Regions from separate parts of the Homo sapiens genome. Here region 1 is linked to region 2. The links come from fine-mapping of genetic effects on plasma protein levels. A gene starts in region 2. The other region holds a variant in brackets. All regions are shown on one strand. Distances are between the middles of the regions. Region 1 overlaps MCM6 (minichromosome maintenance complex component 6). Region 2 holds the start of LCT (lactase).

Evidence for each region. A credible set is the group of variants that fine-mapping cannot tell apart. PIP is the posterior inclusion probability: the model's chance that the variant is causal. Sun 2018 read protein levels with aptamers (SomaScan).
Region 1: its variant is the best candidate, but not a certain one, in a credible set for the plasma level of the LCT protein (Sun 2018, PIP 0.51).

What each region holds. Positions count from the first base shown.
Region 1 is chr2:135,849,113-135,853,519 of GRCh38, forward strand. It overlaps MCM6 (minichromosome maintenance complex component 6), which reads right to left. Exons shown (of 17, transcript NM_005915.6): 12 at 3,675-3,803; 13 at 2,290-2,451. Among named protein-coding and RNA genes, the nearest start is that of LCT, 14 kb to the left of the region's middle. The variant G/A (reference allele first, on the strand shown) is at 1,964.
Region 2 is chr2:135,834,670-135,839,076 of GRCh38, forward strand. It overlaps LCT (lactase), which reads right to left and starts at 2,515. Exons shown (of 17, transcript NM_002299.4): 1 at 1,861-2,515. The coding sequence starts at 2,500.

The sequences.
Region 1 (4,407 bases), 14 kb after region 2:
TCTTCTAATTCTGGGCACCTGGTAGGAAGGCATTTCTCTATCCATTTGAACTTAGGAGGGGCCATGTTAATTTCTCTGGCGAATGAAATGTGAGTATGTGTCATTTCTGGATAGAAGGGGGAGAAAGCACATGGCTCACCACCTTCTCTTCCCTGCTTTCTGTCATCATGAAAGCGTATGTCAAGATCAAACCTTTATATCAGCCTGAATCTCTGAGTAACTTGACAAGGTGAGTCCCTTGATGACCTAATGGATGTGTAGCACAAGCAAAAAAAAATTGTTTTATGCAGCTGAGATTTTATAGTAGTACAACCTAACCTATTCTAAGTGATACGTTACTGAATAGGAAAAATCATAGATGTTTTCAATTCTTCAAGTTAATATAAATAGAATGTTATACTGATAAAAAAATACCAGGTTTTTCTTTAAAACAGAGCAAGCTGATTTCTAAGTTCCTAACAGCTGATAGAGAACAATGCGCTGGAACTAGCCCTACATTTAAACTACAAAGCCCCATAGATTAAAACATCATGGTACCAATGTAAGAGGAGCTGATAAGACTCAATGAACAGAATGGAAAGTCCAAAAGGAGATCCTAACACACACAAGAATATATAATTAAGGCATGCCAAACCAGTGTCAAAAAGATGGATTGTTCAATAAATGGTTTTGGAACAACTAGAAAACTAGCTAGGTAAATAATGGGAGAATTTTTTATAATCTTAGAGTGAGAAAGGCCTAACAAAAGTTTTTTTAATGGATGAAGATTATGAACATATGAGACAGAAATAGCTCTTAAATATATGCAGATACTAAATTTCATTCAGAAAATATATTTGTGTATATAATTTATGTGCATATATTTTAATATCATGTGAATCTGCTATTTGAAGACTAATTTTTAAAAATAGAACAAAATAAAAATCAATTAGAGACTGCCCTAAGACATGTACCAGTTTTATGCAACTCATTTCAGGAACTATCACAATGAAAAAAAAAGTACAAATGTTAGCATGGTTTTAGAATGACCTTGTCCCAGGGTATCTTGCCTATCCAAATTCTGCACACCCTTCAGTGACTGGGTTTAAACGTCGGCACCTCCCTGAGTCCTCCTCCTTCTTTGGTAATAAAGTAATTCATCTCAGCACTCTGGTTGTGATGCTCTATTCTCCCTCTCGTTTTTTTTTAATTTCCAACTTATATTTTAGGTTCGGGGGTACACATGCAGGTTTGTTACATAGGTAAACTGTGTGTCATGGGGATTTAGTATATAGATTATTTCATCACCCACTCTATTTTTTACATGCTTAATTAAATACATGTCTCGTTCCCACCAGATTAGCAGCAATGGAAGGCAGGGGCTCTCATTCATTTTTTGTCCCCTACAGGTGTTCCCTAAATATTGGGTGAATCAAAGAATATTAAATAACCTAGTGTGAAAGTACTTCGTCAATAGTAAAGTACCATATCAAAGAATTTGAAAATTTAGTGGAAAAAAGCCAAAAAATTAACCTGTGGGATAAAAGTAGTGATTGAAGTCGGAACAGTGGTTACTTCAGGGGAAGAGGGCTAAGACTGAAAAGAGGCAGGGGTTTGGAACTTTCTGAAATTATGGAAATGTTTTGGATCTTGAGCTGGGTATTCACAAGGATGTATGTGAAAAAACTCACCATGCCATACATTTCCCTTTTTATAAATTATACCTCAGTCACACTGTAAAAAAAAGCCAAACCCCCTTTTCAAAGACGACCTTACATCAAACCTATTAATAAAACTAGGAAAACGCAGGGCTGCTTTGGTTGAAGCGAAGATGGGACGCTTGAATGCCCTTTCGTACTACTCCCCTTTTACCTCGTTAATACCCACTGACCTATCCTCGTGGAATGCAGGGCTCAAAGAACAATCTAAAAATCAAACATTATACAAATGCAACCTAAGGAGGAGAGTTCCTTTGAGGCCAGGG[G/A]CTACATTATCTTATCTGTATTGCCAGCGCAGAGGCCTACTAGTACATTGTAGGGTCTAAGTACATTTTTCCTGAATGAAAGGTATTAAATGGTAACTTACGTCTTTATGCACTCTATAAACTATGACGTGATCGTCTCCGTCTAACAACTACACTCAAATGCTTACCAAGCTCTTTAAAGGGAAGAATTCCATGGTCGTATGAGCATTCAACAGTTACATAAAAATGTATTTGCAGTGAATTCTAGTATGTCCCATACCAAAGATTAAAAACATGCAACAAATCTGTTTATCTCTGCTCTCATCATATCAAAGTGACTCTGATACCTCATCACAGCAGTGCATCCGAGCCATAGCTTCAGAGAGACGAATCATGCTCTCAAGCTGTCGCACTGTAATCCTCCATGAAGACTTGGTCACTCCAGAACCATCTCTCTGGCGGAGATGTTTATATTGCTCCACAATGAAGTCCTCTGACTCTTTGGAAATCTGTTTCAGATCATCACTCAAGTTAGAGAAACATTTCTATTTGATGAGAGCTACGGTAAACCTAAGTTTAAGAGCCTTCCAGGTGGAAACATTTAGGGAACCTGAGAGGGTTGAAACTTTGAGAAGCCAGTGACAATAAATTACTATTGTAATGTCTTTCAAAAGAAACTAATATTAAGGAGGCTTGTGAATTCCATGTTACTAATTTTATGAACCTGAAAAAAGGCTTAGTATTTAAGCAAATGACCATTTCTAAAAGCTGCTTAACAAGCTGAAGCAATGGAACAAGATGTAATGTCTTTTACACCTCAGGATGTCAGTGCTCATTAAATAAATTAATGCTCAGTATTTGAGGCTCAATTAATTAACTCACACTCTTTGCAGGGAAAAAAAAGCTGTTTCAATAAACTTTATATCTAAAGGATCCTCAGCTTTTCAGAGCAAGGAATTCACCATATTAAGGAAGCATGCCAAGGTTACAGAGGGATCAGTATATCAGTATGCAGTAATGGAGAACAGATGCTCTTTTTTACACAAGAATCACCCATAATCCTTAGTTTTAAATGATTAAATTTCTTTGGGACAGTGAGAGCCAACTGCAATCTCATGAATAATCAAGTGAAGATGATAAATGATCAATACCTAGTAACACCTTCCAGAAGTCAAGTTAGCCAACAGTGTGAAAATCTCAACCAGAATGAGTATTTTTTTTCCTTTTCATACCCTATTTTGGGAAAATGCCAAGCATTTGGGGGTTTATGTCCAGGTAAGAATCCTGGGTCCAGAACAGAGTTAGTCCAATACAATGCATCAATCACTGTAAAACAGTAATTTATATTTATCATAATGGCCTAGATGAATCCAATGTTTCCTTCAAAGAAAGATTCAACTATTGATTTAGGCGCATAAACAATTTTAACGTTCTTAGTAATGTTTGAAATAAAAGAATGTTCTAGATTATCCAGTTATCCAAAACTCTTCTCCCATACAAATCTTTTTATTACCACCAAACAAATAATGGAATTATTCAGAATTTTTTTTACAGTTCCCTTTCTCAGCCCTCTCTGAAAAAACAAATTGCTGTTCCAGAAAAAAAAAAAAAGTTGTAAAATTTAGGAACTAAGGTAGATGACAGGTTCAGTTAATTTCCATATAACACACTTACTTAAATTCCACTTTAATATACCCATTATACCTTATCCCAGTACAAAAGGGTAGGTTACCTTGGGTTTAAACTGTCTTGCAAAGAGAAGATATCTTCTGATATCATCGAGGGAATAGACACGATCAATTGATTCCTCAATTCTTGAATGCAAATCTACTATGCGCCTGGCAATGGCATAATCTGTAACCTAATTCAAAACAAAAAAATCACTTTGATAGTCACAGCAATATCTTCTCCAGACTATCCCAGGCAATAAGAAATGATTTATCGCCAAAAACAAGCTCTAATATACCACTTAAAGAAGTATTAATGGGTACCAAGTTTCTGATGAAAGTTTGGGAACAGGTGGATTTAAAATCAAACGTTTAAATGTATACCATTGCCCCACTCTAAAACTATACCTGAAGGAATTGATTGGCTTTAAAAACAATAGTAGGGTAAAGTGCAGTGGCTCACACTTGTAATCCCAACACTTTGGGAGACTGATGTGAGAGAAGAGCTTGAGGTCAAGAGTTTGAGACCAGTCAGGGCGACAAACTGAGACCCTCCCTGTCTCTACAAAAAAACTAGCTGGGCATGGTGGTGCACATGTGTAATCCCAGCTACTCAGGTGGCTGAGGCAGGAGGATCACTTGAGCCCAGGAGGTTGAAGGGGCAGTGAAGCCATGATTGCACCACTGCACTCCAGCCTGGGCAACAGAGTAAGCCTTATCTCAAAAACAAAACAACAAAAATAGCAGAACTAACATTTATAGGGCCCTCAGTGTATGAGACACTGTTCTCTTAGGCAG
Region 2 (4,407 bases):
CCCAGCTACTGGGAAGGCTGAGGCAGGAGAATTGCTTGAACTCGGGAGGCAGAGGTTGCAGTGAGCCGAGATCACACCACTGCACTCCAGCCTGGACAAAAGAGTGAGACTCCATCTCAAAAAAAAAAAAAAAAAAAAAAAGAAGAAGAAAAAAATGTTTAACGTCTCTATAATCAAATACATGCAAATTAACAAGACATGAAAATAAGCTGTTTTCAGCTGTCAAATTAGTAATAAAATATAGCATTTGAAACTGACAGAATGGGGTCAGAGAGTAATTTTATAACTGTTCGTATAAATGATTACAACTTTTCTGGAAAATAATTTAGTACCATGCTTTAAAATCTTAAAGAATGCAGATCTTTTCACCTAGTAGTTTCAATTCTAAGATTCTGTCAGAAAGAATTTATCAGAAGGTGGGAAATAGTTTATAGATAGGAATGTCATTGCAACATAACTTGTAACTAGTGAAAATTAGAATAAACATACAAAAATAAGGAAAATACCTTAAACTTTATGCTCCATTTATACAATGGGAACCTAAAAGACCATTGAAAGTTATGCTTTCAAGTTTTTCTTTTGTTTTAAGCAATACTATTCCAGCACTGGAGTAAATTATTATATTATTTTAGAGATAGTGGCTCTCTATGTTGCCCAGGCTGGTCTCCAACTCCTGGCCTCAAGCAATCCCCCTGCCTTGGCCTCCTAACGTGCTGGGATTATAGGCATGAGCCACCATGCCTGGCTCAAGTTTTTAATAAAATGAGAATATAGTCATAAACTATGTTAAAATGAAAAAGTAGAACATAGAAGTATATATATATATATATATATATATATATATATATATATATATATATATCAGGTACTATATATACAAATATGTATGTATATGGTATATAATAAAAACAAGAAAGCATATATAATCCAAAATTGATTCTCAAAATTGGTGTACCTAACATACACTTAGGGAATTGATTATAATCACAAATGTCCTGGTTCAGCCTAGGCCTACAGATCAGAACTTCAAGTCCCCTAGGAGGCAGGAATGTGAACAGTTACAGTTGTGCTCTCCTCATCCTGTGATATATAATTGTTTCATCTTGTATTTGTCTGTCTCCCAAGCTGCAATGTAAGCTCCAACTAAGACATGTAAGTATAGGGGAGCCGAGGGGGAAGGACAGGAAACCACGAAACTTTGCCTCCAAGTCAGGGTAGCAGGACATAGACGGAAAGGAAGACAGAAAGACAATCAGTGCTTGCACAACTCAAGACTGGGCAAGGGGTATTTCAAAAATACATGTGTGTATATATATATATATATATATATATATATATATATATATGTATACATATTTTTTTTTTTTGAGATTGTGTCTTGCTCTGTCGCACAGGCTGTAGTACAGTGGCATGATTTCGGCTCACTGCAACATCTGCCTCCTGGGTTCAAGCAATTCTCCTGCCTAAGCCTCCCGAGTAGCTGGGATCACAGGCGCCTGCTACCATCCCTGGCTAATTTTGGTATTTTTAGTAGAGACGGGGTTTTGCCATATTGGCCAGGCTGGTCTCGAACTCCTGACTTCAAGTGATCCGCCCACCTCGGCCTCCCAAAGTGCTAGGATTACAGGCGTGAGCCTCAAAGATATTTTTCAAAGGAAATGCTGAGTGTTTTGCCATGTTAGCTACCCCTTCCTATCGCCAGTGGGAAATCAATTTACAATATTAATTTCTCCCTATGCACAGACATAAGAGGACTGCTGAAGGTGAGTTGGGAGAAATGTCGAATCTGCTCTAAGGAGGATGGGGAAGGTGTGTGATGAAGGTTGCCGAGGGGTCACCATCAGGTCAATGTGTACTCACCCTGAAAAGCATAGCTTTCGTGGTAAATCTCATAGGCTTTTCTGTGGGCATCACTGAGGGTCTGGAGTTGTGACGCTCTTGATTCCTGGTGGGGAAGCTCCTTGATCACTTCCTCCAAGTCACTGAAGGTGAACCAGATCCCAACTAGGTCCCCGAAGGAGTGGAAGGCGAATGTGGCATAGTCGGCGAAGAGGTCAGCAAAGGCTTCGGTTCTCCGGAGGGTGCTGGCAGGGAGGGTCTGGTGGTGCAGGATGACCATGGGCTGAAGCCGTGCAGTCTTGAGGGCCTTGAGGAGTCGCCGGTAGCACTGCACTGTTTTCTCGTCTGGATTCTGGGTGCTTCCTGCTGGGAGGAGCTGTGCCCATGACAGAAATACCTTATAATGGGTGATCTGACTGGCATGGAGACTGCTGAAGTATTCTGGCAGGAAAGTGGGCAGTGGCTGGTGACAAACATACATGTCTTTGTCCCCTGCTACAAAGTTAGAACTCTGGTCTCCCAGGAGACCACTCAGGTTGTGCAGCAAGTCATTGGTTAGAGGACCAGCGGTGGAAATGAAATTTCTATCAGACTCCCAGTCTGACCCCCAGCATGAAAAACTTAGCAGGGCAATAAAGACTACATGCCAAGACAGCTCCATTTTCTAGGAACTGTTAGGAGGTATGTGGAACCCTTACTTTATAACTGCAACTGAGGTTGTAAAATACTAAGTGATAATTAAGACTTAATATTTAACTGGGTTATCTATGATCACAAAATCAGTACACGGTTCACTAATGCAATATTTAAAAATGTAAAGATCAGGGCCGGGCGTGGTGGCTCACACCTGTAATTCCAGCACTTTGGGAGGCCGAGGTGGGCGGATCACGAGGTCAGGAGATCGAGACCGTCCTAGCTAACATGGTGAAACCCCATCTCTACTAAAAATACAAAAAATTAGCCAGGCATCGTGGCATGCGCCTGTAGTCCCGGCTACTCAGGAGGCTGAGGCAGGAGAATCACTTGAACCCAGGAGGCGGAGGTTGCAGGAGCCAAGATCATGCCACTGCACTCCAGCCTGGGCAACAGAATGAGACTCCATCTTAAAAAAAAAAAAAAAAAAAAAAGGTAAAGACCAACACAAAAACCTCAGACTTCCTATACAAGTTAAGCAGAGGAACCCGGAAAATGTCTGAAGAAAACGATTACCAATTTTTTTTGTTTTTTTTGTTTTTTGGTGACCGGGTCTCACTCTGTTGCCCAGGTGGGAGTGCAGTGGTGCGATCACAGCTTCCTGCAGCCTTGACTTCCTGGGCTCAAGTGATCCTCCCATCTCAGCATCCTGGGTAGGTGGGACCATAGGTGTGCGCCACCACGACTGGCTAATTTTTTGTATTTTTAGTAGAGATGGAGTTTTGCCATGTCACCCAGGCTGGTCTTGAACTCCTGGGCTCAAGCAATCCTCTTGCCTCAGCCTCCTAAAGTGTTGGGATTACAGGTGTGAGCCAGCGCACCCAGCCACACATTATTTTAAAATTTGTTTACATAATACAAAAATAAGTATTTTGCCCCAAATTTTCTCTTTAAAAATATGCTGAACATATTTTGTAAGAGATTCAAACAATATGGAAACATCTATGAAAAACTTGCAAATTCCTTCACCCTCCCCCCTCCTCTTCCTATAATAAGTATCTTCAGCAATATGTATCTTTCCAGTTTTCTTTCTCTGCATATCTTAATGGTTATACAGGAGTCAGAATGCCTGGGTTTAAATCTCACCTGACAAAAATTACTTAACTTTGTGCCTCTATTTTGTCACCTGTAGAATGTGGATAATTCATCATAGGCTGTGGGGATTAAATGGGTCTTTCTTGTAGCATGTATACAACAGTACAGCTCAGGGATCATTATTATTACGTAAATACAAATGGAAACGTGTATAACATTTAAAATATAGAACAATTTAACATATATGGAATTATGCCATATGTATTTTCAGCCTTTTCTTCACTTAATAGCTCTTAGAGTTCTGCCTGTATCAGAACATATAGACCCACCTCTAACAGATGCATAGCTTTCCACAGCAAGAATGTACCATAAATTAACATCTTGCATATTAAACACCGGTTGGTTTTACATTTTTGTGTTGCAAACAATGCTGCAAATGAATATCCTTATATACAGGCTGGGCATGGTCAATCACGCCTGTTTTGCCAGTACTTTTGGAGGCTCAGACTGTAGGACTGCTCAAGCCCAGGAGCTTGAGGCCAGTCTGGGCAACACAGGGAGATCATCTCAAAAAAAAAAATGGTTTTTGATTGATTGAAATGCAAATTGTCTTCCAAGTTAAATCCTACATAGAGTTAGATGTGTGCCTGTATCCGTCTGCCTTGCTAATGCCTATTATAAAACTTTTACATTTTTGATACTTTGACGTAAATATTATGTGCTTTTCTTTTTCTGATTATTTAAGAGGTGAAGCTCTTCTTGTTAATTGGGCATTTTTCTTCTGAGTTTTATCTTATTACTGATATAAAAATTCTTAATGGGAGTTTGGATATCACATAT